Linked DNA regions of Homo sapiens: region 2 is linked to region 1. Evidence: fine-mapped expression QTL. A gene starts in region 1. The other region holds a variant in brackets. All regions are shown on one strand. Distances are between the middles of the regions. Region 1 holds the start of ALDH1L1-AS2 (ALDH1L1 antisense RNA 2). Region 2 overlaps ALDH1L1-AS2 (ALDH1L1 antisense RNA 2).

Region 1 (14,987 bases):
GAACAAGCACATTCCCTTTCCTTCAGGGGCACTAAGACAGGAAAGCTAAAAGCAGACTCTTGGCTGGGCGCGGTGGCTCATGCCTGTAATCCCAGCACTTTGGGAGGCCGAGGCGGGCGGATCACGAGGTAAGGAGATCAAGACCATCCTGGCTAACACGGTGAAACCCCGTCTCTACTAAAACTACAAAAAATTAGCCAGGCGTGGTGGCGCATGCCTGTAGTCCCATCTACTCAGGAGGCTGAGGCAGGAAAATCGCTTGAACCTGGGAAGCAGAGGTTGCAGTGAGCCGAGATGGCGCCACTGCACTCCGGCCTAGCGACAGAGCGAGACTCTGTCTCAATAAATAAGTAAAAACAGACTCAGGGACTATACCTGCAGCTGCAGGAAAAATGTATGAAAACAGGCACACAACTCTCCCTCCCAGATAAGCACAACAAAGAGACACAGAAGCAGTCCAAGCCTCTGATAAACTCTCCCATCCTGAATCCTTAAAAACTCAGTCTGTAAGAGAGTGTGCCTCTGACCTAACTTGGCCAGAAGGCTCCTTTCAGGTTGATTTTCTCTAAAATAAATGTCTTAACTGGCAAGCCAGCTTTTGTATTTCTTTCCTCTTTCTTTAATTCTTACAGTTCTCACAGTAAGGATTGGAGAAAAATCCCCTTCTGGTTTTGGCAGGAGGCAAGGAAAGCAGTCATTTTTTTCTCAACATATCTACCCTCATAGAAACTATTATACCAGAGCCTAAGTGAATGGACACCCAGGGCCTAACTAACCTAAGTGATGAGGAAAAACCCAAATCCAGCCCCTCTAGCCTTTCTCATCACCTAAAAGGGGTAGGACTGAGAAACACTTGTGAAGGTCACAGCCCAGGGGTGCAGGCTCACTGAAACACTAAGACCTAATTGTAGGACTGTAAAACACTTCCCCCCACCAAAACACCTTGCTACTACATCCACAGGGCTCCAGTATAGTAACAAGGGGATTACGGATAAGAGAACTGCAAGCCAGAGCCTATTTAAGGAGTTTCTACAAAAACCCAAAGACAACAGGGTAGACAAAAACAAGAAGATGAAGAGAGAAAATTATATCCTCTGATACCCACAGCTATAGCAAATAGTAAACACATTCTAACTCCTAGACAGGTAAATATCAAACCTCACACTAAAAGCCTATCTACCTCAGTACCTTTTACCCAATACATTATATCTGATTTTCTGCAAAACAATTACAAGATATATAAAAGACAAAAACACAGTTTGCAAAGATGAAACAAGCACCTAAACCACAATCAGATATGGAAGCAATGTTGGAATTTTCAGATGGAAAATTTAAAACAATGATAATTAAAATGCTAAGAGCTCTAATGGAAAAATGTGGAGAACATATAAGAACAAATTGGTCATGTAAGCAGAGAGATGGAAATTAAGAAAAAAATCAAAAAAAGTCTAGAAATAAAAACCCTGTGATAAATGCAAAGAATGTCTTTAATAGGTTTATCAATAGACTGGATACAGTTGAGGAAATAATCAATGAGATGGATGAAATATCAACAAACACTTCCCAAACTGAAATGCAAAGGGAAATATAGAATAAAAAAGACAAAACAGAATATCCAAGAATGGTGGGACAATTGCCATAGGTGTAAATCCTTGTAATAGGGATATCAGATGGAATAAAAAGAAAGAAAGGAATAGTAAAAATGTTTGAAGTGATAATGACTGATAATTTTCCAAAATTAAAGACAGATACCAAACCAAGATCCAAGCAGCTCAGAGGAAACCAAATAGGATAAAGATCACCCCCCACCCCCCAAAAAATCTATACTTAGGCATATCATATTCAAACTGCAAAAAATAAAAGACACAGAGATAATCTTCAGTGAAGCCAGGGAGAGGCAGGGCAGGACACCTTACCTATAGAGGGAGAGAGATGAGGATTACATCAAACGTCTCTTCATAAACCATGCAATCAGGAATAGAATAGAAAGAATTATTTAAAGAACTGAAAACATTCCATCAACTTAGAACTAACTAGATTCCATCTGTATGCAGTAAAATTGTCCTTCAAAAGTGGAGGAGAAAGACTTCTCAAACAAAAATTGAAGGAATTTGTCACCAGTAAACTGCCTTACAAGATATGTTAAAAGAAGTAATTCAGAAAAAAAGGAAAATTAAACAAGTCAGAAACTCAACATACAAAAGAGTATTAGAAATAAATGTGAAATAATTTTTTTTCTTATTCTTAATCTGAGAGATAACAATTTGTTCAAAATAATAATTGCAACAATGTATTCAGTGATTGTAGCTTATGGATAAGTGAAATGAATGATAGCAGTAATAATAAGGCATGGGAGGGAGGAATCAAGAATACTCTGCAATAAGGCCCTTACACTACCCATAAAGTTGTATAGTGTTATTCAAAAGCAGACTTAAATTAGATTTAAGTGTATATTGCAAACTGTAGGTCAACCACTAAAAAAGCAACAACAAAAAAGTAAAACTGATATGCTAAGAGAGAAAAGAAAATGGAATCATATAAAATGCTCAGTTAAGATCAGAAAAGGCAGAAAAAAGTGTGGAAGAAAAAAGAAACAAAGGGCAAATAGAAAACAGTAATAAATATGGTAAATATTAATCCAACTATATCAAAAAATCACTTCAAATATCAATGGTGTAAATATACCAATTAAAACATGTGACTATCTAGAGTGAATAAAGAATCGTGACCTAACTATATGTTGTCTACAACAAACCCATTTCAACATAAAAACCAGATAGGTTACAAATAAAGGGATGGAGAAAGATATACCGTGCTACCACTAATCAAAAGAAATATGGAGTAGTTCTATTAACTTCAGATAAAGCAGACTTCAGAGAAAGGAAAATTATTAGGAATAAAGAGAAGCACTACATAATGGTAAAGGAGTCAATTATCCCAGCAGACATAATACTCCTTAATATGTATGTGCCTAACAACAGTGCTAAAATGTGTAAAGCAAAAACTGACAGAATTTTAAGGAGAAATAGATGAATCCACTATTATTACAGTTGGAGACATCAACACCTCTCTGTCAGTCCCCACTAACGTTTTTTTTGGGGGGGCGGAGTTTCACTCTTGTTGCCCAGGCTGGAGTGCAGTGGCACGATCTCGGCTCACTGCAACCTCCGCCTCCCGGGTTCAAGCAATTCCCCTGCCTCAGCCGCCCGAGTAGCTAGGATTACAGGCATGCACCACCACGTCCGGCTAATTTTGTATTTTTAGTAGAGCCTCCATGTTGGTCAGGCTGGTCTCGCACTCCTGACCTCAGGTGATCTGCCCACCTCGGCCTCCCAAAGTGCTGGTATTACAGGCGTAAGCCACCGTGCCTGGCCAGTACCCACTAACTGATAGATCCAGCAGGCTGGAAATCAGTAAGGACATAGTTGAACAGCACCATCAATTAAGTGTATCTAATTGGCATTTAGAGAATACTTCACCCAACAACAACAGAATACACATTCTTCTCAAGTTCACATGGAATATTCATCAAGACAGACCACATTCTGTGCCATAAAACATACAACAACAAATATCAATGACTTCTATGATGGAGATTACTGAGATCACAACAGAATCACTAGAAATCAATAACAGAAAGATATCTGAAAAACATTAAAAAAATGGAAACTAAATGACACACTTCTAAACAACATGTAAACAAATCAAAGAATAACTCTCAAGAAAAAATTTAAAATATTTCAAACTAAATTAAAATGAAAATATAACATCAAAATTTATGGGATGCTGCTAAAGTAGTGTTTAGAGGGAAATTTAGAGCACTGAATGCATATATTATTAAAGAAGAAAGAGCTAAAAGCAAGTTTCCAAATTAGGAAACTAGAAAAAGAAGAGCAAATTAAATCCAAAATAAACAGAAGAAAGGAAATAATAAAAATTACAGCAGAACTTGTGAAATTGAAAACATGCTGTCAATAGAGAAAATCAACAAAACCTAAAGCTGGTTCCTTGAAAAGATGAATAAAACTGAGACACCTCTAGCCAGGTTAACTAAGAAGAAAAAGAGAGAAGACTCAAATTACTAATATCAAAAATGAAAGAAGGGCCATCAATACTGATCCTACGGTCATTAAAAGGATAATAAAATACTAGTATGAACAACTCTATATCAACAAATTTGGTAAGTTAAATGAAATGAAACAATCCCTTGAAAGTACAACGTTCCAAAACTCACACAAAGAGAAATAGATAATCTGAATAGGCCTATACTGATTAAAGAACTGGAGCCAGTAGCCTTCCAAAATAGAAAGCACTAGGGTTAATGAATATGACTAAACATTTAAGAAAGAAATTATGCCAATTCTCTATGATCTCTTTCAAAAAATAGAAGTAGAGGAAATTCTCTAATTTTCTTGGGTCAGAATTACCCTGGTACCAAAACCAGAAACATTACAAGAAAGGAAACTAACAGATCAATATTTCTCATAAACATAGATGTTAAAATCCTCAAAAAAATCAGCAATTGAATCCAACAATGTTTAAAAAGAATTATACATAACCACCACATGGGATTTATTCTAGGTTAAACATTTGAAAATCAATTAATGTAATCCATCGCATGAATAGGCTAAGGAAGAATTATATGATCACATCAATAGATCCAGAAAATGCATTTGACAAGAATCTAACATTCATTTATGATAAGAGCTTTCAGCAAGCTAGTAATAAATGGGAACTTAACTTGATAAAGAAGATCTATGAAAAACCTACAGCTAACATCATACTTAATGGAGAGAAACTAGAAGCTTTTCCCCTAAGATCAGAAATAAGGCAAGGATGTTCCCTTTCACCCTTCCTAGTCAACATTATACTGGAAGTGCTGGCTAATGTAATTAGAAAAGAAAAGAAAATGAAAAGTCTACAGATTGGGAAGGAAGAAATAAACTGTTCTTGTTCTCAAAAAACATAATTGGCTATGTGGAAAATGCCAACAAAGCAACAGAAAACTGGAAATAATAAGTTATTCTGCCAAAGTTGCTGGATGTAAAGTCATGGTTAATATACAAAAATTGATTACTTTCTTATATACTAGCAATAAACAATTGAAATTTGAGATTAAAAACACAAAACCATTTACATTAGCACCAAAAAGTGAATTATTTATACATAAACCTAAAATAGGTCAAAATCTATGTGAGAATAACCATAACTGATGAAAACATAAAAATATGTATAAATAAATGAAGAGATAGTACATGTTCATGGGTAGGGAAACTCTATACTGTCCAGATGTCAGTTCTTTCCGACTTTATCTATAGATTCAATGCAATCCCAATCAAAACCCCAGCAGTTATTTGTGGATATCAACAAACTGATTCTCAAGTTTATTTGGAGAGACAAAAGACCTGGGATAGTCAACACAATATTGAAGGAGAACGAAGTTAGAGGACCGATACTGCCTGTCCCCAAGACTTTACTATAAAGCTACAGTAATCAAGACAGTACGGTATTGGCAAAAGAATAGTCAGATAGATCAATTGAACAGAATAGAGAGCCCAGAAGTAAACTCACATCAATACAGTCAACTGAACTTTGACAAAGAGACAAAGGCAAGACAATGGAGAAAATCTGCATTGCACAAAAATCACACAAATATCTGTACACTGATGTTTACAGCATCTTTATTTGTAACTGCCAAAACTTGGATTTGACTTTTTAGATACAACAACAACAGCACAATTCATGGAGGAAAAAAAATGGTACATTAGACCTTATTAAAATTTAAAACTTCTGCTCTGCAAAAGACACTGTTAAGAGAATGAAAAGACAAGCCATGGTTGGGGAGAGAAGACATATCTGGTAAAGCACTGTTATCCAAAATATACAAAGAACTATTAAAACTCAACAGTAAAACAAACAACCCAATTTTAAAATGGGCCAAGTAAATTAACCGACATTCACAAAAGAAGATATACAGATGGCAGAGAAGCATTTAAAAAGATGCTCAACACTGTAAGTCATTACAGATTGCAAATTAAAATATAACAATGAGATACTACTATATGCGTATTAGAAGAGTTAAATTAAGAGCACTGACAACAAATGCTGATGAGGCTGTGGAGCAACAGGAACTCTTATTTATTACTGGTAGAAATGAAAAATTATGCCACCACTATGGAAAAAGGTTTGGTAGTTTTTTATAACACGAAACATACTTTTACCATGTGATCCATCAATCGCTCTTGATATTTACTCAAAGGAGAAGAAAACTAATGTCCACACAAAAACCTGCACACAAATGTTGATAGCAGCTTTATTCACTGCTAAAACTTGGAAGCAACCAAGATATCCTGTAGTATGTGAATGGAGAAATAAACTGTGGTACCTCCACATCCATACAACAGAATATTAGTCAATGATAAAAAGAAATGGGTTACCAAGTCACAGAAAGACATGGAGGATGCTTAAATGCATTTTGCTAAGCGAAAGAAGCCAGTCTGGAAAGGCTATATACCATATGATTCATACATACTATATGACATTCTGGAAAAGGCAAAACTACAAAGGCAGTAACCAGTGGTTGCCAGGGATAGGTAGGGGGGTTGGGGGGTGGATGGGTAGAGCACAGGAGAGTTTTAGGGCAGTGAAACTATTCTCTATGATACTGTAACACTGGATACTCATCATTATATGTTTGTCCAAAACCATAGAAGGTACAACACCAAGAGGGAATTCTAATGTAAATTATGGACTTTCATTAATAACATTGCATCGATATTGGCTCACCAAGTATAACAAAATTGGCCAGGCCTGGTGGCTCACACCTGTAATCCCAGCACTTTGGGAGGCCAAGGCGGGCTGATCACTTGAGGCCAGGAGTTCAAAAGCAGCCTGGCTAACATGGTAAAACCCTGTCTCTACTATTATAAAAATACAATAATTAGCTGGGCATGGTGGTGCACCTGTAATCCCAGCTACTCGAGAGGCTGAGGCCCAAGAATTGCTTGAACCTGGGAGGCAGAAACTGTAGTGAGCTGAGATTGTGCCACTGCACTCCAGCCTAGGCAACAGAGCAAGACTGTTTCAAAAAGAAAAAAGCTGTAACAAAAATATCCTATCAATGCATGATGTTAAAAATAGGGGAGGCCAGGCCTAGTGGTTCATGCCTGTAATCCCAGCACTTTGGGAGGCCAAGGCAGAGGATCACTTGAGCCCTTGAGTTCAAGGCCAGCTTGGGCAACAAAGTGAGACCCATCTCTACAAAAAAATTTTTAAATTAGCCAGGCGTGGTTGTGCATGCCTGTAGTCCCAGCTACTTGGGAGGCTGAGGCATGAGAATCACTTGAGCCCAGGAGTTCAAAGCTGCAGTAAGCTGTGTTTGTGCCACTGCACTCCAGCCTGGGCAACAAAGTGAGACCCTGTCTCAAAAAAAAAAAAAAAGAAAAAAAAAAAAAGAAAGGAAAAGAATAGAAAGAAAAATAGGAGAAAGCGCGCAGGAAGGGACAGACTGAGAATATGGGAACTCTGCACTCCGTCCTCAATTCTTCTGTAAACCTAAAACTGCTCTAAAAATGTCTACTAATTGAAATAAATAAATGAATCTAGCTCTATAGTTCACATCTTACTCTAAAATACAGTCCAATTGGGTTAAAAATAAATACTTGAAAATCAAATATAAGAAGAAAACATTAAATTATTAGAAAATATTGGTAAATATTGAGTTATACAAACCTGACACTGTCAAAACACCCAACAAGTAACAAACCACGATAATTGTGTAAGGCTTAAGTTTGTGTGTGTGTGTGTGTGTGTCTGTGTGTGCATGCGTGTGTTTATCTGCAGGGTAAAAGCCTAGAAGAATTTACACTGAAATGTTGAAAGTTACTGGGTAAAGGGTTTTGGGTTTCAGAGGTTTTTGACGACTGTAATTATTTTGTTTTCTTAACTGAATGTTCTTTTTTTATATTGTACATGATTACTTCTGAAAAAAAAAAATAAAAGAGTATGTCGTTCCCCCCCTGCAGGGAGGCAGAGTCCAGGTGGCCACCAAGGGGCTGTTGTCACAGTCCAGGGAAAGCCAGAATGGCAGGCACGGGAGCCTTGGGAGGGGCCTCAATCAGGCTTGCCCTTTGGCCCCAGAAAGAGCAGGGGCCTGCAGTGAAGCCCATAGAGCCCCTTGTGGGCCGTATGGGCCGCCTCCAGGCCTCCACCTCCTCCCCCAGTCATGGCCGCTCAGTGTCCTTTCACTTGGTGGTGTGGGGACACTGGGAGGCTTCCTGGGCCTCCCAACCCTCCTACCCAATTCCCAGCCCAGGCTTGGCTCTCCAGGACCCAGCTTCTAGTCCCTGTGAGGCTGGGCCACCCTGCAGGACTGCAGCTCTGGGCCCTCTGTTCTGGTGCTAGGGCCCTGGGGCCCATGAATGCAGTTCTAGCACTCGGGAGGCTGAGGCGGGAGAATCACTTGAACCCGGGAGGCGGAGGTTGCAGTGAGCCGAGATCGTGCCACTGCACTCCAGCCTGGGCGACAGAGCGAGACTCTGTCTCAAACAAACAAACAAACAAACAGCAGCCAACATTCTCCGAGGGTTTCCTAGGGCCAGGCGCGGGGCAGTCTCATGTAATTCTCAAGCAATCTTGGGAGGCAGGCACTACTGTTCATTGCCCCTCCCGATTTTAGAGACAAGAAACTAAGATTCAGAACACAAGAAACTTGCCCAAGGTCAAGGAGAAGTGGAGGCGTGGGGAGGAAACAAAGTCACCTGACACCAGAGCCCATGCCTCCAAACTCCAAGTCTGGGACTCCTGATTAAATTCCGTCTCTGTCTGCACTTTGGGAAGATTCTTTCCTCTCCTAGGCAAGTGCCCGCGGGGCCTGAGCTCTCGATAGCGGGGCCCCAGGAGCCACGTTGTGGGGTCTGCTATCCGGCCTCCCTCTGCACGCGCGACCGTCCACTTGAGCGCAGTGGCTGGAGCTGGGACTCCAGCGCAGCCCCTGAGCGCTCACGTCGACCCCTCCAATCACAAGAGGCCCTCGTGCCAGGCCCCCAGATTTGGCCAATCAGGGAAGACCTTTCCCTGTCACAGAATGGGGTCGAGGGGCCCAGGAAACAGGTAGTCCCCAGTCACAAATCATCGCGTCGCCTTCGCTGGTCCCTTTCTCTTATCGAGCCTCAGTTTTCTCTTCCATAAGCCGGGCCAGCAGTGCCCACCCCACAGGTTGGCGCCAGCTCCGTAAGGGCCCTACCACCGCGGCCGGCCAGATCCTCGGCGGGCCAGTCCTGGCGCTGCGGTCATTTAGCCTGATGACCCCTGGCCAGGTTCAGCCTCAATTGCTCCAAAGAACTCCGGACCCGTACCCCGAGCCCGGCGTCCCAGCGGCGAAGTTGATGGGCCCCGCAGGAGCCCTTGCGGTGAGAACCGAGTCCTGGAGCCCCTGGAGCCCCCGGAGCCCCCGGAGCTGCAGCCGGGGCAGCCTCCTTTCCGCCGGGAGTCCAGCGCTCTCGAGAGCCCAGAAACTCACCGCGCGCAGGAGTTGGTGCGGGCGTCCCGGGCAGGTTAGACTTCTGTGAGCCGCAGCCCCGAAACTGAGGTTGGTGCAGACCCGTCCTGGGAGCCAGGAGGTGGGACCTGTCCCCGCCAGTCCGCGAGCTCTGGTTAAGGCCAGAGCCCGTGAGGGGAGGGGCGCGGGGCGGGCGGAGAGTCAGCCGAGTGGGGGCGGCGCTCACCGGTGGTGGGACTATGGCGGGAGCGCAGCGCACCCTCTCCGGGCGGGTCTATAAATGCCATGTAAAAGCCAACCCCGCAGGGGCCTGCGCTCTTTCCCGCTTAGGTCAAGAAGACTTACTGTGGACCCTTGGAGAATTCCCAGGGCTTTGAAAAGTCCCAAGCACCCAGCAGGGCTGGCAGTTCTGAGCGCTGGCAAGGCTAAGTGGGTCAGAGGAGACCCTCGCCAAGCCGGTGACTCACTCACTCGCTCACCCTCTCTCACTCTTGATGGGCCAAGTACCTGCCATGTGCTACGGACACAGCAGAGCGAAAGGAGACGCTGCCCTCCGGGAATTTGCAGCCGCTTGCAGAGGCGGCCCCTTAGCAGCTGCGCATCCGGGTGGATAGCGGCGCTTCTGCCCGCCCAGTGCCTACCCGCCTCTCCGAGAGAAAAACAGCCCCTGGTTTTCTCTCTGCAATTCCCCTTCTCCACTCTCTCCCTTCTACTCAGTCCTGGTGCCGCAGACCCCTCCTCCTGGTTCCCAGAGATCCTGGCCAGCCCGGTCTCAGGCAAGGCCATGTAGAATGCCGGGAGTGATAATTGCGTATTGTTTCATGACTGCAAGCCTGTGTCCAGGTGGCTCCTTCTCCTGGAACACCCTTCCCACCACACCTGCGGCCGCACTGCTCCGTGCCCTGCTAAGCCTCACTTCTTTTGAGGCGACCCTCTCGCTAAGTCCCGACCACCTGGCCCTCTCTCTGCTCAGTGCCTGAACACATCAGGCTTGCTGCAGCCCCTGCCTTTACCTCTCTACTTGTAGTGTTCTTTCAGAGCCTGCTCCCATATGGTATCACATATCAGATATCTGATGCAGAGCCTTAGAGAGGCTGTTCCAGGTCACACAAACTAAGGAAGTCCCTCAGCCACTCCCTGCCACATCACCCTGTTCTATTTCCTTCACAGCACTTAACTGTATATCTGATATTTCCTTGTTTCTTTGTTTGTTCATTGTCTGTCTCTCCCACTAGACTGTAAGCTCTTTGAGGACAGGAAATTTGTGAGATGTATTCACTGTTGTATCCCCAATACACAGTGATGGCTTGTAGCAGTTGCTAAATAAATGTTTGTTGAATGGCTTAATGCATGTATTTTGCTCACATAAGCCAGTATGGGCACCCAGGATTGAGGTGGCCTGTGCCTGCTGATCCACTTAGCCTACTTTCAGGCACTGTCCCCTTGTTCTTTAGGCTCCAGCCTGCAGGTCTCCCTGCTGTCCCTCATATCTGTGGAACTTCTCGACTCATAAAGTTTCCATGTGCCGTTCATCTTTGTCCAGAGAACCCCCATCATTCTTCAGGAAGTTCCTACTAAAATGCCATGACTTCAGGGAAGCTTTCCCTAGCCTCAGCCTTACTAGGACAGATTCCTCCATTATGTGATCACAGAGAGGCCTGTAATTTTTCTTCATGAACCTCTCTCAACTTTATTTATTTATTTTTTTTTGAGGTAGAGTCTCACTCTGTCACCCAGGCTAGAGTCCAATGGTGCAATCTCAGCTCAATGGACCCTCCACCTCCTAGGTTCAAGCGATTCTCCTGCCTTAGCCTCCTGAGTAGCTGGGATTACAGGCATGCGCCACCACACCCAGCTAATTTTTGTATTTTTAGTAGACGTTTCACCGGGGTTTCACCATGTTGGCCAGGCTGGTCTCAAACTCCTGACGTCAGATGATCCACCTACCTCAGCCTCCCAAAGTGCTGAGATTACAGGCATGAGCCACTGCACCCTGCCTTCAACTGCAATTTTATCACTGCTTCTGGGATTGCTTGATTAACATGTCTCTGGACAATGATGGCGAAGACTAGCTTATTCTCCTGGGAAGTCCCCAGGGCTGAATGCATGCCCTGTGTGTGGAAGGTGTGCCATATAATCTGTAGGAAAACTGGCTGAGTGTTAGGGGCCTGCAATGGGAAAGTGGTGTGTTCTGAACTTGGGAGTTAAAATTGAGAAGGCAGATGGGCGACAGGAACCACTGAACAATGGCTTGGAGGTTAGACACCCCAAAAAGATGTATTAGGAAATCAGAGAGGAATCCATACTCTTAGAGGTATGGAGCAGGAGAGGAGGGAATTTTAAGCAGAAAGTGTTCCGAAATCATGTGGAAAGTAGAAAATGTACCAGATGAACTGGGGGATCTCATTAAGGAGATTGTTGAAGGTGCCTCCTCCTGGCTTCTTCTTGCTGCTTATACTAAAATGTGAGAGAAGGGACATAAGCCAAAGGAAGGATTGTTAAATAAAAAGGAACCATAACTTGGGCTGTGAAAATGTCCAGCTTCTCCAGATGTCATATGATGCTAAAACTAACAAATGGCTTCCAGGCAAAGAGCAAATGCAGGCCAGTGCAAGGAAGATGGCCTAAAGATGAAGCCAAGAGTGTGGTCATGAGATCTTTTGTAAAATCTTCAAAGAGAACAAAGGGACACCTCAGAATATTTTGTTAAATAGTAGGATTTCTAAGAAGCTTACAGTTGTCCTTGACAGCAGTCTCAGCAGAAGCCCAAGAGAGAGAAGGGCTTTTCTCAAAGAGATGTGTGGGTTTGACAGTTGTCTAAAGGCATGAACCTCAGTGAGATCTACAGGAGACATGCAACATTTTTAAAAGAATTATATGAGCAAAACAGTGTAGACTTGGACTGAAAGGGTCAGAGACAATATAAAATGAAAAGAGACCTCTAGACTCCCCCAAATTCTGGGAGGAAGCAAGCTGAGAAACTATACGGATATGAACCTGGGCTGCATTTCATGGAAAAGAAGGGATGACTTGGGGAATAGAACAAAGAACCCAAAGGGTGGAGCCAAGAGCGTGGAGAATCACTCTGGGGCCAGAGTCAGACTGAGTCCTATTCAAGAGACTTTCAGGACCCGCCCAGGAAGATTTTAGAATTGCCGTACACTAGTTACTCCTGCATGCCTCCTGTCCTTGTTCCCTTTGGAGCAGGCACGTCTACAGTGGTTATCCAATGCCTATCCCACCAGTTTATGTCAGGTGGGTGCAGGGGGGAGGCGCAGTTAATTTGTCTCTGGAATTCCTAAGTCTGTAGATTGAGAGCAACTCTACTCAAGGAGCTACACTTGAGGGAATAATACCCCAGGTGCTTCACCCACATCAAAGCCTGATTTAGATGCAGAGATTCTGGATATTGAGCTGATTCTACAGTGGGATGAGGCTTTGAGGGGATGTTTGGAGGGCGAATGTATTTTGCATGTGGAAGGATGTAAGTAGTTTGTGGCCAGTAGGTGGACTGTGGTCATTTTAAAACTCTCTGATGCTCTTCCATTCAAGGAGTGGCACTTAATTCCCCTGCCTTTGAATGTAGGCTGAACGTAGTGACTTCCTTTTAACACATGAAAGATGGTGGAAGTAACTGTGTGATTTCCGAATCCATCCTTTCATAGACCAGAGAGAGAAGCTGAGGCTTGAGGTCAGACAGTGGCAGAAGCCAGCTTGTCCCTGTCCCAGGACTATATGATACTCTCTGAACGAGTCCCACTGAAACCCTCTTTTGCCAGTTCAGTTCACTGTGCCGGGAATGCCCTGCTTCTTGAAGCCACCAGCTGAGCCCTGCCTGTGCCCCAGGGATGGGCTTGTGCATCATCTCCTTTGGGAAGCCTGACCCCAACCTTCTCCTTGGGAATTCCCTCACTCACAGCACAGACCACACTCTAATGCAACTATTTATATGTGTGTCTGTCTCTTTATCAACTGCAACACCTCTGAGGGCAGGGACAGGGCCTGTTTCATCTGTGTATCCCACAGCCCTGCACAGGCCCTGATCCAGGAGAGGCACCTGCAGTGACAGTGGCTGGATAAGCCCTGCAGAGAGAGCCTCTGCCCGGGCTTTCCGCAGGGCCCTGGTGGCTAAGTCCTCCCAGGGAAAGCAGTGTGCACTTACACAGCCCAAGTCTGGGTAGAACAATGGGGGCTACTGCTCCAATCCAGAGGCAGATTAGGAGACAAGCCTGGCTCAGGGCTCTGTGAATGGGGGATGGGATAGACATGGGTTCTCTTTCTGTTGTATAATGATGATTCAGCTTGTTTTTGGGGAATCAGTAACTGGGACTGTGTGTACGCTGCAAAGGAAACATTAACTTGAAGGTCATAGCCTGTGGGAAATCAAAGCGGGGAGGCCAAGTGACCTGGGCTTGTTTTTGTTTTGTTTTGTTTTGTTTTAATTTTGGAGCCAGTGTTTCTCTTTATCTCCTAGGATGCCTCGTTCAGATGCTTCTACCCTGCCTCGTGAGTTACTCATGATGTCACCTGATCCCCACCCCTTAGAACCTCTCCCCAGTGGGAACCAAGAATTCAAAATGGTTTTCTCCATATTTCCCCCTTTAAAGGGCCTGCATGCAATTTTTCATGTAGAGGCGAAGGTAGGGATGAGACTTAACAGAGCTCTGTGCCACACACCAGAGCCCACCTGATGACCTGCAGACATAGATGGAATGCTTCTGGGCCACAGAGCTTACAGCCCTGCTCCTGCCAGGTCCTCTCCAGCCCCATGCCAAATCTAACCTGGGGGTGTTGCGTGTTTGCACCCCCATGCAAACTGGCTGGTGCCAGCACCTGGCTGGCACATGGCCCCCAGAAACTCACTGTAAAGGAATAAATGAGCAAAGAGGAGGCAGGGACGGTGTCTCTACTCCAGGTGCTCGCACCTCTATGGGGGAGATGAATGCACAGGTGGCAGATATGAAAGGTGGGAGGGGATGTGAACCATCACAGAGGTGAGACATGAAGAAAGCGGGTCTGGGTACTTCAGGCTTCACCTGGGAGATAAGGCCCAGTAAGACTGTGATGACTTTAACCAGCAAAAAATAAGAAACGTTCCAGTTGGAGAGAATGTAAGAATGATGCATTGGTGCATGGAGGTGGGGATGTGGGTTGTTTTTGAGGAATCAGGAGAAAGCATTGCAGCTGCAGGAGAGAAGCTGGCAAAGTCAGGGGTCACGAGGCCACAACATGGGGTGCAGACTGTGGGTTTCACTCTGTTGTCCAGTGGTAACAAGATGTTCTGATTTCATAGGCCAGGGCAATTTCAACAGCATTCCAGTAACTGATATTAGATTCTCATTTTCTTATTTTGCAAAGTAAAAACATCTTTAAAAAGTCAATATTCTGGAGTATTATTCAGACTTAAAAAGGAAGAAAATTCTGACACACATTACAACATGGAGGAATCTTGAGTAGTTTATTCTAACTGAGTTAACCCAGCCACAAT
Region 2 (14,987 bases), 28 kb after region 1:
GATAAAGTCAGAAGTTCCTGGATCATAAGCTCCTATGGGGATTCTAAATTCCTAGGTAAACATTTGAGGATTTTCTCTTGCATCAGGAAAGTATCTTATGAAGGCTCTAAGTTCAGCTTCAGAGCATGGAGTAAAAGTGGTTACAGCAGGCAGGCCTAGGTGTTCAGAGGGTCTCACTTTGTAAGACAGTTGTCCAACCTCTCCTTTTCATTTTCCTCAAGATGGAAAGGTACTTGAGCAAAACAATCAGTGGACTCAGGGTATTGAAGTAATGGCAAAGACAGCAAGGAGCAGTCAGAGTTAATTCAATTCAATGAGCGGCAGTCCTCCTTCCTCTGGTCCTCAGTTTGCTGATTAAGCTTTTTATTTGTCTCCTGGGAAGAAACCTTTAAGTCAGACACTCTTTGTTTAATCTTTTACATGTTTCTGCATACCAATTAAAAATGCATTCCGTTGTTCTTGTGGGTTTTTTCTCTTTGTATTTCTAATTTTTCCCTGAAAATAAACAATTTTATCTAAATTAAAACTTCTCAGCCAGGCACAGTGGCTCATCCTTGTGATCCAAGCACTTTGGGAGGCTGAGGGGGATGGATCACTTGAGACCAGGAGTTCAAGACAAGCCTGGGCAACAGGGTGAAACCCCATCTCTACAAAAAATACAAAAATTAGCTGGGGGCGGGGGGTGGTGTGCACCTGTAATCTCAGCTACTTGGGAGGCTAAGACAGAATAATCCCTTGAGCCCAGGAGGCAGAGGTTGCAGTGAGCCGAGATCGCACCATTGCACTCCAGTCTGGGTAAAAGGAGTAAAACTCTGTCTCATCAAACAAGCAAACAAACTTCCCCACTGTGGCTGCTGTAACTCTAAATTATTTTTGGTAAGGCTCACCCATTTCTCCAGAAAAGCCCTGATTCTGGGTCCATAGTTCATATACAAGAAATTGACTAGAGTCCCAGATGGGGGAGTTCTAAGCTCCTTGGATCCCAGTGAACCCATGATTCCCTATCTCCTAGGAACCCTACCTACCACACCCAGTTCAGTTTCTTCTTGACCCAGCCAGACATCTGAAACCTCTATAGGATCCAGTCCAGTTTGAAGATTTCTGAACCCAGTCTGGATCAAATTTCTCAAATAAGCTCAGAGAGCTCAGAACCCGAATGAGTGGAGCTCAGAATCCGAGAGGGCTCAATCCACCATCCCCAGTTCCAGGGGATCAGTGGGCACAATGGGCCTGGTGGGTGCCTTTGCTTTGCCACCCCCTGCTCCTGGGGGTCACTATGCTCCTCTTTGAGTTTCTTCACATTCACTGATCTGTTGAAAAGGGAAAACCTCAGGCAAGCTTAAATTTATCAGGTTTATTTAAGGGGAAAAAAACTTGCAAGCTGGGCAGCCCTTAGAACTAGAACAAGTTCAGAGAACTCCTGCCTGCCACATGGTCAGACAGCATTTATGAACAGAAAACCAACATGGAGCAAAAAGAACAACTAAGTTGGCTACAGCTCAGCGTTTTATCTCACTGGGTCGGCTGACTGCCTACTATGACATAAGGCTCAAGCCTTAACTAACCAAACTCAGCTATTTGTTGCCTTAGTATACTCTTAAGGAAATTAGTGACATTTAGCATGAGTGACTCCATATTGGCTTGGTCTGCTGGATGCAGGAGAGGAGCCTGATTCAAATCAATGGCCCCTACAAATGTTACTGAAGAGTTCTAAGGAGGGTTCCTGAGGTGGCTGTGGCCATGAGGGCCCGCTTGAGGCTGAAGATGGGAAGCACACACATTCTTATATTCTCCATTCTCTGCAGTTGGTGTTTGCTTATTCCTGGGCTGGCCACCACCTTTTGTAATTGCTGTAGCTTTTTGCTTTATTTTTCAAATTATGTTATTAAAAATTAACTATGCACTCTTTGACCCAGCCATTCCACTTCTGTGTATTTTACCCAAGAGAAATGAAGATATACATCCACACAAAGACTTGTAGAATGTTCACAGCAGCCTATTCACCATAGTCAAGACCTGAACACAAGTCAAATGCCCACCAATTGGAGAATGAATAAAAAAATTAATACTTTTATACAGTAGAGTATTATTTATTAATAAAAAGGAAGGAATACATGCAGCAATATTATGTTAAGTGACAGAAGCCAGACTCAAAATAGTACATGCTGTGTGACTTTTCTACAGGATGTTTGAGATCAGATAAAACTAATGTATGGTAATAAAAGTCAGCACAGTCACTGGGTGAGGGTGGGGTTGACCGGAAAGCAACCCCAGGATATTTCTTGGTGCAATGAAATGTCCTCTAGCTTGTTCGAGATGGTGGCTGTGCAGGTTGTGAAACTGCCAAAACCCATTAAACACAACATGTAAGATCTGTAAACAGAAATTATTATAAGGTTAAAATTAACTACAAAAGGAATATGTGCTTGGTATAAAACACGAAACAATCCAAAAATGAATAGAGAAAAAGTTAACAACCCACTCACCCTCTTTGGACTTCCCTGAGGCAATTGCTATTACTGTTGTTTGTGTACAGAACTGAAGGCCTGTTACTATCCTGCAAAAACTCTTGTTACTATTCAAGCATCACGCCTGTAATCCTAACACTTTGGGAGGCCAAGGTGGGAGAATCACTTGAAGCCAGGGGTTCAAGACCAGCCTGGGCAAAACAGTCTCTACAGATTTTTTAAAAAATATATTAGCCAGGCATGGCAGCATGCAGCTGTAGTCCTAGCTGCTTAGGAGGCTGAAGCAAGAGTACGGCTTGAGCCCAGGAGTTTGAACCTGGGTGACAGAGTGAGATTCTGTCTCTAAAAACAAAAACAAAATGAAATTGATATTGAAACTTTCAGTTCAAATTTAGGCTTGTAACATTTTATGTAGCTTCTTTGGTCTCAATAAAAAAATAATTTGAAAACAAGAAAGATTCTAAGAAGATAATTAGATAAGTGAAATAATGACATTCAATAGGTTTGAAATATAAAGTTAGAAACACCTTCCAAAAATTAGATTAAAATGATGAATAAATGGAAAATAACATAAAAGATAAAAGGTTTAGAAAATCAACCCATAAAAGATGAAAGGTTTAGAAAATCCACCCATGAATCAACCCAACATTGAACAATAAGTGAAGTCGCATATATTCTAGTTGACTTCCAGTTACTGTATGAAACTTTTTTCATTTATTAGACATGTAGGGAATAGACTGACCACTGAACTGAGACACTCTCAGACAATCACAGCGTTCAATCACAGACAATTGCAGACATTCTCAGACAATCACAGTGTTGTGCCTTCTTAGCTACGGCCCCAGACTCCACCACAGCAGGTGGGAAGTTCAGCCAGTTCCATTTCAGACTTGAAGGGCCAGGACACCCAGATGGCAAAGACTGGCCTCATGCCCACTAAGGATGAGTTGCGAAGCAGACATTCATGAGAAAGGGAAAGGAGAGATGCTGACAACCACATCCACACAGCTCTTGGACAAGGAAACTAGGATGCAAATAACAACAGCATCTTGGAAAAAGGTGGTGCTGCACTTGAAAGGAAGACAGGAACCCACTTTTAAATATTTTATTCCCAATGAAACATGAGACAATGAAACAGGAGCACTTGTTAACTCAAAGAAGGACTGAAAATATGCCCCCTTCCTCAAAACTCTTTTTTAGAAGCCACTGGAGCACGCAATCCAGAAAAAAAAAAAAAAGAAAAAAAAAACAGAACAAACAAAGGAACAGCAAGATCTGGATGCAGGAGCCGTGGGGGCGGGTACTGGTACAGGACACGGGCTACAGTCAGTCTCAGGATGCCTGCAGGCTGGGCAGCCAGAGGTCCTGTGCAGCAAGGCAGAGGTGCTGGGGCACAGTGGGGTTGACAGAGTCTGCAAGATGAGGCACCTTATAAAGGATATGGCCATGTACTTGACAGGTCTAATGCAGCATTTTGAAAAAATAAATAAAGATCAGTGCACCAAAATGAAGCAAATTTTAAAATGAGGTCATCACTAACTCTAAGCGAAACAAAAAGTTGGACTAGGAAAAAACCCCACCATATACTACTATTGCGTTTGCAGTGTGGTACATAGTCTTAATAGACTACTAATGTATAATAGATTGTAAAATTTATCAATATTTTACTACATCCGTACTGGGAGATTGGAGGGTTGGGGAGAAAGGGAAAATGCAGAGAAGGGGGCTGGCACAAGGAATAAATCTTCATCTGTCCTGACAAACACTCCGCAGAGCATATCAGAAATTACTCATTGGGCAATAGCTGTGCAAGCGTATTATTTGGAAGCACTTATTAATGTGTTTGGTATTTCCACTCTTGTTGGATGTGTGCAGCAGGCCCACTTCAGGTGCAGAAGGGGAGGTCCATTGTCTCATCCTTGTACACCTAGCACCACCAGGGTGTCTGCAGAAGGCAGGGCTTAGTGAGCTAATGAACAGGCAAACACATACACGTCCTTGGATATCCCTCTGCCACATTCAGGGAGCAGGGGTCTGTGTGTAGGGAACCTGCTCCTAAGGCAGTTGGCTGTTGTCTACCCCACCCCCCCACACACACACCTAGGCTGGACTTACCCTCTCAGGCCCCAAAGGTCAGGCCAGGTAGGGCTGGGACAGCCTCCCTAGCAGGGCCTGATGGCTAAGGAAGCAGGGATGTAGGCTGAGAAAGAGAAGGAGGGAGACACGGGGGTTGCAGGCTCTGATTTCAGGTCCATGCTGGGGCCCTGATGGCTCATGCTAGAGATGGGTATCATGCTTGCAAAGTTCTACAGGAAACGGGAACATGGGCACCGTGTCCCTGGGCTGCCTGGGTCCTCCCTGCCAAGTCCAGTTCTGCTTAGACTCACACGCGGCCATCTCTCCATTTATAGGGTTACTCCAGTGAGTTCAATTACAGCACTGATTCCCTGTGCTGAGGGCTCAGGACAGGCAAAGAGCTGCCCTTGACTTCCGGGATTCTTAGGTTCCCCATGGCACTGATACTGTGGACTTGTGAAATTTCATTTCTGATAAGATTGCATAAATCCCAATGAGGTCACTGTATTAGTCTGTTCTCGCATTGTATAAAGAACTACCTGAGACTGGGTAACTTATAAGAAAAGAAGTTTTAATTGGCTCATGGTTCCACAGGAAGCATAGCTGGGAGGGCCTCAGGAAACTTTCAATCATGGTGGAAGGCAAAGGGAAAGCAGGCACATCTTACATGGCCAGAGAAGGAAGAAGAGGAGAGAGAGGCGGGAGGTGACACACACTTTTAAACAACCAGATATGAGAACTCACTATACCAAGAGCAACAGTGGGGATCTGGCCACACGATCCAATCACCCCGCACCAGGCCTTTCCTCCAACATTGGGGATTACAATTTGAGGTGAGATTTGGGCGGGGACACAAATCCAAACCATATCAGTCACCTTCTAATGAAATGCTTTTTAATGAGGTCGAGAGCTTTGCAATTGGTGCAGAGGGCATACACCTGGGAGAGTTTTTTCTATAAGGGTTTTTCGCTGAAGCTTCCTGAAAGTATTGGTGTCTTTATGTTGTAATGGGTGGGCCACTGAGTTCAACCAACATTTAAACAAGCACTTGCTATGTATTGGCCTGGATGAAAAAGGCAGGGTCCCTGTGCTCCAGAAGTTCAGAGTCAGGGAAGGGAGATGGATGTGTCCAATCCATTCATTCTCTTGATAAATGTGTACTGAGCACCTAGGATATGTTGGACACTGTCCCAGACACTGAGATATAGCAAAGAACAAAATTTCAAAAAAACACCACATAGGACTTACCTGACTGGGAACAGACAATAAGCATAATAAAGATGGGAATTATCAGCTATATGAAATGGAGAAAAATAAAGTAGGGGAGAGGAGAGGGAGAGTTGAGGGAGGTTGCATTTTAAACAGAGTGGTGAGGGAAGCTTCATGATAGAGTGATAACTGAGCGGAAACCTACTGAAGGAAAGTGAGTCAAGTACACCCAGGGGAAGGGCACACCAGGGGGAGGAGCATCTGGTGGGAAGGGCACACCTGGATGAAAAGTACAACTGGGGGAATGGTGTACCTGGGGAGTGAGTGTACCTCAGGAAAGGGTGCAACTGGGGAGAGGGAGCACCTGGGGGAAGGGTACACATGGCAAGTTGGTACACCTGGGAGAAGGTTCACCTGGGGAGTAGGTGCACTTGGGGAGACGGTACATCTGTGGAGAGGGCACAGCTGGGGGAAGAGTACACCTGGGGAGGGGGTGCACCTGGGGAGTGGGTGCCTCTAGGAAGAGGGTGCACCTGGGGGAAGGGTGCACCTAAGGAGTGGGTATACTTGGGGAAATGGTGCACTTGGGGGAAGGGTACACCTGGGGAGAGGGTGCACCTGGTGGAAGGGTATACCTGAGGAGTGGGTGCACCTGGGGAGAGGGTGTACCTAGGGAGTGGGTACACTTGGAGAAAGGGTGTTCCTGGGATGTGGGTGCACCTGGGGGAAGGGAGTACCTGTGGAAAAGGTGCACCTAGAAAAGGTACACCTAGGGAAAGGGTGTACCTAGGGGAAAGGTACACCTGGGGAGTGGGTATACCTGGGGAAAGGGTATACCTGGGAGAAAGGTACACCTGGGAGGTGGCTGCACCTAGGAGATGGACACACCTGCGGGAAGGGTTCATCTTGGGGAGGGATTGTCTCATCTCCCTATCCTTTCCCTCCCCTTGTCATTCAAACCTCTAAAATACAAGCTTTTCTCAACTTGGGGCTTGGGGACAAGGGTCACAGAGTCAGTAACCATTAGAAGCAGTATGTAATCATTTGTGTGTACTGCATACAGTGGCATTTTTCTCTAGTGAGACAATTTGTGACTTTAGAATGAGCTTTTTCCCAAAGATTGAGAATCCTGGGATGTTTATTCAATTTCACTCATGAATGCAATGGTTTATTAAAGAATACATTTCCAGAGGAAGTGATGGTCAGAGACGCTTGCTAAGCTTCTAACAGAAGCTTGCAGCCCTGAAGGCTGCCTGCCTCCTCCTGGAGGTCATACCCAGATCTATGCTGGACACCCAGGTCGTGCAAAGCTCAGAGGTCAGCAGGGCTGCCTCTGCCAGCTCCTTTCATGGAAGCTGAGGCACAAGCCTGACAACTTGTTCACTTGCAGCTGACTTCATGCTTTTTGCTTTAGCACATACTTGAGAGAATGTTTCAATTGGAGTCCAATCAGACCAGCCATCCTACTTTGCCATTTTATCACAACCTCAGCACATACACAGGAAAGTTTTAGCAGTTCAACAGAACATTTTTAGTCATTTGGCAGAAGTAGTATGCCAATTTGCAAATTTGCTGGAAATTTCCCAATATACAATCTCTGTTAACAAGCTCATTACAAAACTTCTCACAGCCTCCCTGGGGGATTGTACTAGGAACTAGATGTATCCAAGGCACTAATGTTGTTTCTAGATATTTTATTTTTATTGTGATTGTAAAAGAGATCTTTGTTCACTTTATTTTGTAAAGGGTTGTTGCAAGTATATATAAATGCAACTTATCACTGTGTTTATTTTATATCCAGCCACTTTATTCTCTTACTATTATCCCTAAATACTTGCTACGTCTTTGAGGAATGCCCATATTTTTCTGCCCTGTGGACATCACTTCTTGACCAATAAATTGGGAGTTCAGTGCTGGATTCTGAGCAGGGAAGTGATGTGTGCCTTCTAAGCAGAAGCTCTCTGGGTATCTGTTACTGCTTTTAAAACCATCCCACTGTAATCCCAGCACTTTGGGAGGCCGAGGTGGGCAGATCACGAGGTCAGTAGATCGAGACCATCCTGGCTAACACGGTGAAACCCCGTCTCTACTAAAAATGCAAAAAAAAATTAGCCAGGCATGGTGGCAGGCGCCTGTAGTCCCAGCTACTCGGGAGGCTGAGGCAGGAGAAGGCGTGAACCCAGGAAGTGGAGCTTGCAGTGAGCCAAGATCGCGCCACTGCACTCCAGCCTGTAAGCAAGACTCTGTCTCACAAAAAACAAAATAAAACAAAAAAACAAAACAAAACAAAAACACCATCCCAACACAGAGTGGCTTAAAATAATGGTTCATTATGATGTAATGGCCCTGTGGACTGGGTGCGGTAGTTCTTTCTTAGGTTTCTTATGTGTG[G/A]TAGTCAGTTTCTGGCTGCGGCTGCACACCACCTGAAGGCTCAGCTGGGCCGGATGTCCAAAATGGCCGAGTCGCACAGTGAGCAGTGGATTCTGACTGTCACCTGGAGCCTCAGTGGGGGCTCTTCACTGGAGCACTCACATATGGCATCTCCACATGGCTTGGGATTCTCACAGCCTGACAGCTAAATTCCAGGAGGGAACATTATCAAGAGATCCAGGCATCTTACAAGCCCAGCCTCAGAAGTCCTAGAATGTTACTTCCATCACAATCCATTGGTTAAGCAAGTCACTAAGGTTAGTCCAGACTTTGTTAGTAAGACAAAGGCAAGATTCCAGTACTTGGTGTAAGAATCATCCAGCACATACAGGGAGGAAAGAAATTGATGGTGACTGTCTTTGGAGACTATCCATACCAAGCTTTAAAAATCATCACCTGGTTCCGCAAGCTCTTTTCCTTGGCCATGAGGCCAGCGTGTCCCAGGTAAGGGCCGCTAGAACTCAATGGACTGATTCGTTCATTCGGGCATGCATTTTAAGTTAATAAACACTTACTGAGTCTCCACTGAGTGCATACATGATGGAATCAAACCAAACCAAGGCCCTCTTCAGCTATACCCATGTCTGGGGCACAGGAGGGATAGTGGGGGCAGGCTGTGCTTGTTAGGCAGATGAGTTCAGAACTACAGAGTGATGCAAATATTAACACCTATGTAGCACTTACTGTATGCCAAGTATTACCATTTTACATACTTTACACATTGTGCTTTACAGCAGAACCTGAGAAACACGCTCATCAAGTCCAGGAAATAAATAGAGGTATCAGCTGTCACTTTTTTATTGTAAAATTTTTTAGTAGTGCAATAAAATAAAAACAAAATAGAATACATAATTATTAAGAGAGAAGACATAAAACATTACTATTTTCAGATACAATGATTTTGATCTGCAGAAGTCTCAAGAGAATAAACAGAAAAATTCCTAAAATTAGTAAGTAAAGCCCTAGCTCCATCACGTACAAGCCTTATGAGCTTAGGTCACTCACTTCCTGTCTCTTCTCTCATCTGAACCTCTGTAGGGCCCTGGAAATGGGGGATCTCCTGCCTTGACAGCTCATCAGTACGTGTGAAAAGCCAACAAGAGTGGATATGATAGGAACTGCAATCACACAGCACTTTGGAGAATGTGAAGATTGGTGCTCACAGCAGAAGTTAACACACTGATGCTGTGATCACTGTTCAGTAGGTGGAATGGTCCTTAGTGATCCTTGAAGAGTAGCTGCAACTGGAAGACACAGAATGGAGAGGGTGGATCATGCAAATGAAAAGATGGGCTCCAACATTCAGCGGAAGGAATTTATGGTTGGTTCCCCCGTTTTTTTGTTGGCGGTGGTGGTTTATTTTCATTCCCCATGCCCGGTCCTTCTGATGGCACTCACTGATTTGGCTCTAGGGCACAAGTCTATGTTGCATGCAGTCCTGGTGTAACAATCAATTGAGGCATTTCCTGGGCGAGGAGCTGGGACACGGGCCAAGCCAATCAGACTCTGGTTCCCCCAGGACGCTGAGTCATAGTGGAGCCATGCCAAGACGGAAACAGCTGACCTGCTGTGCTGCTGCCATGGCTCCCTGAGGAGTGTCCCTCAGTTCCTAAGAGGGGACTGTCTGCACGCTGGCTCTTATGGGTTGATTTTGCACTTTTTCTTTGATTCTGAGAGCTACCCACATCCTCTCCAATTCTTGCTCCAGTCAACCAGACACAGTTTCTATTGCTTGCGGTGGAAGACATGCCCATGCAGAAGGCGTCAAGGCTCTTGGGAAGATGGGGAGTGGCATGTGTTCTCATGGTGTTCACAGCTGCACATGGGAAACACCTCATTGCCTTCGCACAACAAACCCAAGAGGGAGGGGGTTCCTTCCCCAATTCTGCAAATGGAAAAACTGAGGCTCAGAGGGGAAATTGATCTCTCAGTGTCACAGCCAATGAATGACAGAGGGAAAGTTGTGGTCCAGGGCTGAGTCCGGGTTCCACAGTGTGTAGATGAATTTCTTCAACCCCTTCATCATGTGACAAGAGCCACAAGGTCTCCAGGCCTCCTGGACATGACAGGTGTTTGCTCACAAACTGAAACTTTCTCTGCTGGGTCACACCCTCCTCGCCCATCCCTACTCTTGGTGCAGGGCATGAGCTGGACCCTGGAAGACCAATGGGTATTCAACTTTCAGAAAGCCTTGGCGAGGTCTAGTGATGAAATAATTTTGTCATTTGGAATGCTGACAAAAAAAATTTGAATTTTTCGGCCATAGTTTCATTTCCATAAATCACTTCATTCTTATCCTAATCCTTCCCCAACTGTTTGTCAAAATTCCCATCAAATATTTTTCCACTTGGAAGACTGATTTTTAACACTCATACCCCACCCCCACCAGGCCACGGTGTGGACATTTTTCATTCCTAAAGTCAGGAGGCCAGAGACATTTCCAAGAGAGATCAAAGCACTTGCTGGCCACGTTGGAAAATGAGAAGGGAGGATAAGGGTGTGAAGGGGCATCCTGCCTCCAGGAGGGACCCCCTCCAAGTGAGTTAAGAGATGTGGGCCAGGAGGGCTGAGCAGTAGCATCCACTGGGAAGCCCTGGGCTCCAGGCCCAGCCCTGTAGCTGCCTCACTGGACAAGCCCTTCCAGCTGGCCTCGGAGGACATGGACCATCTTCCCGGGTTTGGCTGTGTATCCCAGTAGCACCATGGAGTAGCCAGGGCCCTTGGCCAGGCCACTAAACTACACCGTACCCCCCTTGTCATCTGTTGCATGCAGGCATCAGAATTTACCTTTAAAGAAGTGTTTCTCAAACTTGAGTCACTTAGTTTTCATGGCATATTTATACAATATATGTGCGATTATTAAAAGTTTCCTTTAAATCAAATTATTGCCTTTGTTTAAATATCTTTCTGTAACTTGCACATATCATCACTGAAGATGGAAAACCAGTATCACATGCCGTAAACAAAGGGTAACTAAACAAAATAGCACAACTATAAAATAACAGATTTCATATGTCCCCTAAAATCAACTTGTGTACTACCAGTGATATGCACACCCAATTTTGGAAACACTACTTTAAGGGGGTTGGGATATGAACTCAAATACCTCCAACTCTAATATCCCCAAGTCCTTCAATTATCAGGGGTTTCTATTTCATAATTTAAAAAACAAGCAGCCTGAATCCACATTCTACATGCGATGGCAAGTCTCCTCCCACCCATTTCTTCTTCCCTTAGGAGACTTTTGTGGATTTCCAAAAGGTTCATGTTTTTCAGGAACAAACCAATGGCCAAACCGTGGTGTGGTGGGGGTTGAGGGGTGTGAGCTACCTCCTTTCCCACAGTGCCTAGCTCCTCGCTGGCAATCCATGTTCCATTGATGCCCAGATTTACACACCAAGCCTCTCTCCTGAGCTGCAGATGTGTGCACCTGACCATACACTTGGCAATTCTCTTTGGCTATCTTGTTGACGCCTCAGCTTAGCACACTGAAGACAGAACTCCAGACCTTTGCCCTAATCCTGCTTTCTCCAGGCTTCTCTGCCAGGGGGAGTGGCCATTCCCCAGGTCCTCATGTTTCCACAGGGGCAGAGACCACGTCTGTCCCATTCCCTGCTCTATGTCCTATGCCTGGCCGGAGTAAGAGCTTGTATGGGCCAGCTTAAGCTGTCATACCAAAGAACAAACGACCCCACGTCCTAGGGACTTCAAATAACAAAGGTTTATTTCTCTCGCATATTTATGCCTCTCTCAGCATGGCTGGGTCTTGATCCATGTCAGCTTCATTCCAGAATCAAGGCTGATGCAGCAGCCCCTACCAGACGTGCCAGGCTGCTGCCAAGGGAGAAAGAGCGACAGTGCAGCCACCGATGGCGCCTGGAGCTGCCACATCTGCCACACTGCTCATTGCCCGTGGCAGAGACTGAGTCACGAGGGCCGGGAAGCTCCGTCTCCAGGGAACAACTTGGGAATAACTGCACAGCCTCCCACAGTGCTTGACAGATACTGATTGGATACTGATAGGAATAAGGTGTCACAGGCAGCTTCCATCATGATCAGCTTCCATCATGGATCATGAAGTTCACATGAAGATTAGAAAGTGGGCTTCATGCTTGGGTGGGACACAGAGCTCACCCACTGGCTGAGATATTCATTTCTCACACAGGTGAAGTCAAAGGCCTTACACACAGGACCCCCACACCCACAGGCCTCACACTTGGCCCTGGAGGCTGCAGGCTGGCAGCCCAGTGTGTGGGGTCCCCCTGCTAAGCCCCTCCAGCCTGCCCCTATCCACACCCGTCCTCCGCCTCTGCATCTGACCCGGCTCCCACATCACACCGCTGGGGGCTCCTACCTCCTGTGGGCCTCACTGCCTAAGAGTCTTTGAACCTCTTAGTCACTCTGAGCCTTCCATGGTTTGGTCCTTGGAAACCAAAGGCTCACACAAGGTCCCATCTAAGGGGCCTGCCCAGGAGGCAGATCTGGTCAGTCAAGTCCTCTCTCAGCAGGAGTCCCCTGCAGGCAGAGACTCACGGCTGCTGAGCCAGGAAGTCAGGGCCACAAGACTTATAGCCCTGGCAAGTCTCCAGGTAGTTGACACTGGATACACTGCCATGGTGGGGCTGGAGGGTCAGCGGGCGGTAGGTCAGGATGTCAAAAACAGGGGAGATTGACCCTATAGATACACCTGTATGAGCACAAAATGGCAAGCACACAGCCCAAGTTCCTATCCACAGGGTGTCCGTTGAAAAGATCATGGGTACACCTTGGAGCACTTGAGGCGGATGTCAGAAAGAATGAAAAAGCTCTGTGCAGGCCTATGGAAAGGGCTCTGGGACTGAGGAAGGAAGGAGAGGGGGAAGGGAGGAAGGGAGGGAGTGAAGAAGGAAGGAAGGACGGAAGGAAGGAAGGAAGGAAAGGAGGGAAGGAAAGGAGGGAGAAGGGAAGGAAGAAAGAAGGAAGGAGAGAAGAAGGAGGGAGGAAGGAAGAAGAAAGGAAGGGAGGAAGGGAGGGAGGAAGGGAAGGAGGAAGGGAAGATGGAAGGAGGGAAGGAAGGAGGAAGGGTGGAAGGGAAGGAGGAAGGGAAGATGGAAGGAGGGAAGGAAGAAGGAAGTAAAGAAGGAAGGAGGAAGGGAGGAAAGAAGGAGGGAGGGAGGAGGAGAGAGGGAAGGAAGGAACGAAGGAAGGGAGGAAGGAAGGAAGGAAAGAGGGAAGGAAGGGAGGAAGGAATGAGGAAGGGAGGAAAGAAAGAGGGAGAGAAGGAAGAAGGAAGGAAGGAGGGAAGGAGGAGAGGAGGGAGGGAAAGCAAGAAGGCGGGAGGAAGGGAAGGAAGGAGGGAGGCGGGGAGGGGTACACAACAAGGGCAGCCTAGGCTCCGGTTGCTGTGACAAAGAAGCGGAGTGGCCCTGCTGCATTCTTTTGCTGGCATTTGGCATAAGCCTGTGATAGATAAAGAGCAGAAGGTGCCTTTAGGGGGCACCGAAGAACAGGGTCGATAGGGCTGGGGGAAAGCAAGTATTTCAAAGCTAACTTTTCCATCATTTTTGTGTTTGAACCATGTAAATGTATTGCCTGTCCCCCTAAAATGGATTAATTGAGAAGAGAGCGAGACCACGCCGAGCCTCGGGCCATCACAGCCTGAATGGGAAGCAGCGAACCCCGCTGTGACGGCTTCAGGCCCCGGCCTGTGGAGGGTGGGGGAGTCGCCCTTGGGAGGGGCTGGGCCCCACCGCCGGCTCTGCTTCTCACGGCAGGGGCGCCCCCAGGAAGGGACAGGACAGGGAGCTTTGTCCCGCAGCGAACGGGAACGCGGAGGCCCGGCCTCTCGCCTCCCCACCCTCCCCACCCTCCCCGCGCCTTCTCGGGCCTCCGCGTCCGCCCTGCGCCCTCGGAAGGCGCCGCCCGGCGGCCGCGGCCCTTCGCCGCAGCCAGAGTGCTTTGTCCGAGCTCAAAAAAGCCGTCTCCATGGAAGCGGCCCTTCCGCTCGGAGCCCGGCGGCCTGGAGGGAGACCCGGCGGGGATGCGAGGATTCCGCCCCAGCCCCAGAGGACGCGGCGGAGAGCCTGGAGGAGGCGCTTTGAGAGTCGAGGTCTCCCGCCCGCGCGCCTCCCTGGCGCAGACCTCTTTTAACTTTTTGGCGTGGAGTGCGCGTCCTGACGTGCCCCCTGAGCTACAGCTTACTGAGCTTTACTGGCTTCGCCGGACAGCCGTCCCCAGGTGGAGAGACAGCGCGTCGCGCGCTGCCCGGGCCCCGCAGGGCCTGGCGCCTGGGGCCCTTGCGCCGCTTTGGGGCGAGGGGATCACACCGCGGGCTCCCGGAGCTTAGCGTCTTCCACGCGGCGCTGTGTGTCATCCACGCAGTGTGCTCTCGCTGCCGTGTTCAGGTCACTGCGAGGGTGAGCCCCGCTTTATCTACCCCTTCTGCTGTTGATGGGCACTCGTCTGGGGCTAGAAGGGATAAGGTTGCTGTGAGCGTTCTCGTGTGTTTTTGGTGCACGCGCACACACATTTCTCTGGGGTGCAGACCTGTCTAGTAGTGGAACTGCCGTTTCCCAGCACTTTGGAGCAAAGCCCTGTTGCAGTCTGAAGCGGAAAAGGCAGACGGGCCTTCCATGTTCGTGATTCCAGCCAGGCACAGAAGGGAAGGACAGGGACAGCAGCCGCGCGGAGGCGAGGAGGGACACTGGGCGCTGCTGTCCCCTCTCAGGGGCAGCCACTCCTCTTGTGGACGCAGGTGTGGTCACCAGAAGGGAAGGACAGCAGAGGACTCTTCAGGGACCTTCCTGGATCCCCCTGCAATGGGAG

The links. PIP is the estimated chance that this variant, and not a neighbour inherited with it, causes the effect.
Region 2: its variant is fine-mapped to the expression of ALDH1L1-AS2 in testis (GTEx, PIP above 0.99).

What each region holds. Positions count from the first base shown.
Region 1 is chr3:126,170,956-126,185,942 of GRCh38, forward strand. ALDH1L1-AS2 (ALDH1L1 antisense RNA 2) reads left to right here and starts at 9,110. Exons shown (of 2, transcript NR_046383.1): 1 at 9,110-9,589. It overlaps ALDH1L1 (aldehyde dehydrogenase 1 family member L1), which reads right to left and starts at 9,631. Exons shown (of 23, transcript NM_012190.4): 1 at 9,521-9,631. RefSeq lists enhancers at 9,291-10,046, 10,047-10,800, 13,651-13,945.
Region 2 is chr3:126,199,105-126,214,091 of GRCh38, forward strand. It overlaps ALDH1L1-AS2 (ALDH1L1 antisense RNA 2), which reads left to right. Exons shown (of 2, transcript NR_046383.1): 2 at 9,222-11,065. LOC124909426 (a long non-coding RNA gene) reads left to right here and starts at 13,928. Exons shown (of 3, transcript XR_007096060.1): 1 at 13,928-14,987. RefSeq lists enhancers at 9,025-10,224, 14,403-14,915. The variant G/A (reference allele first, on the strand shown) is at 8,145.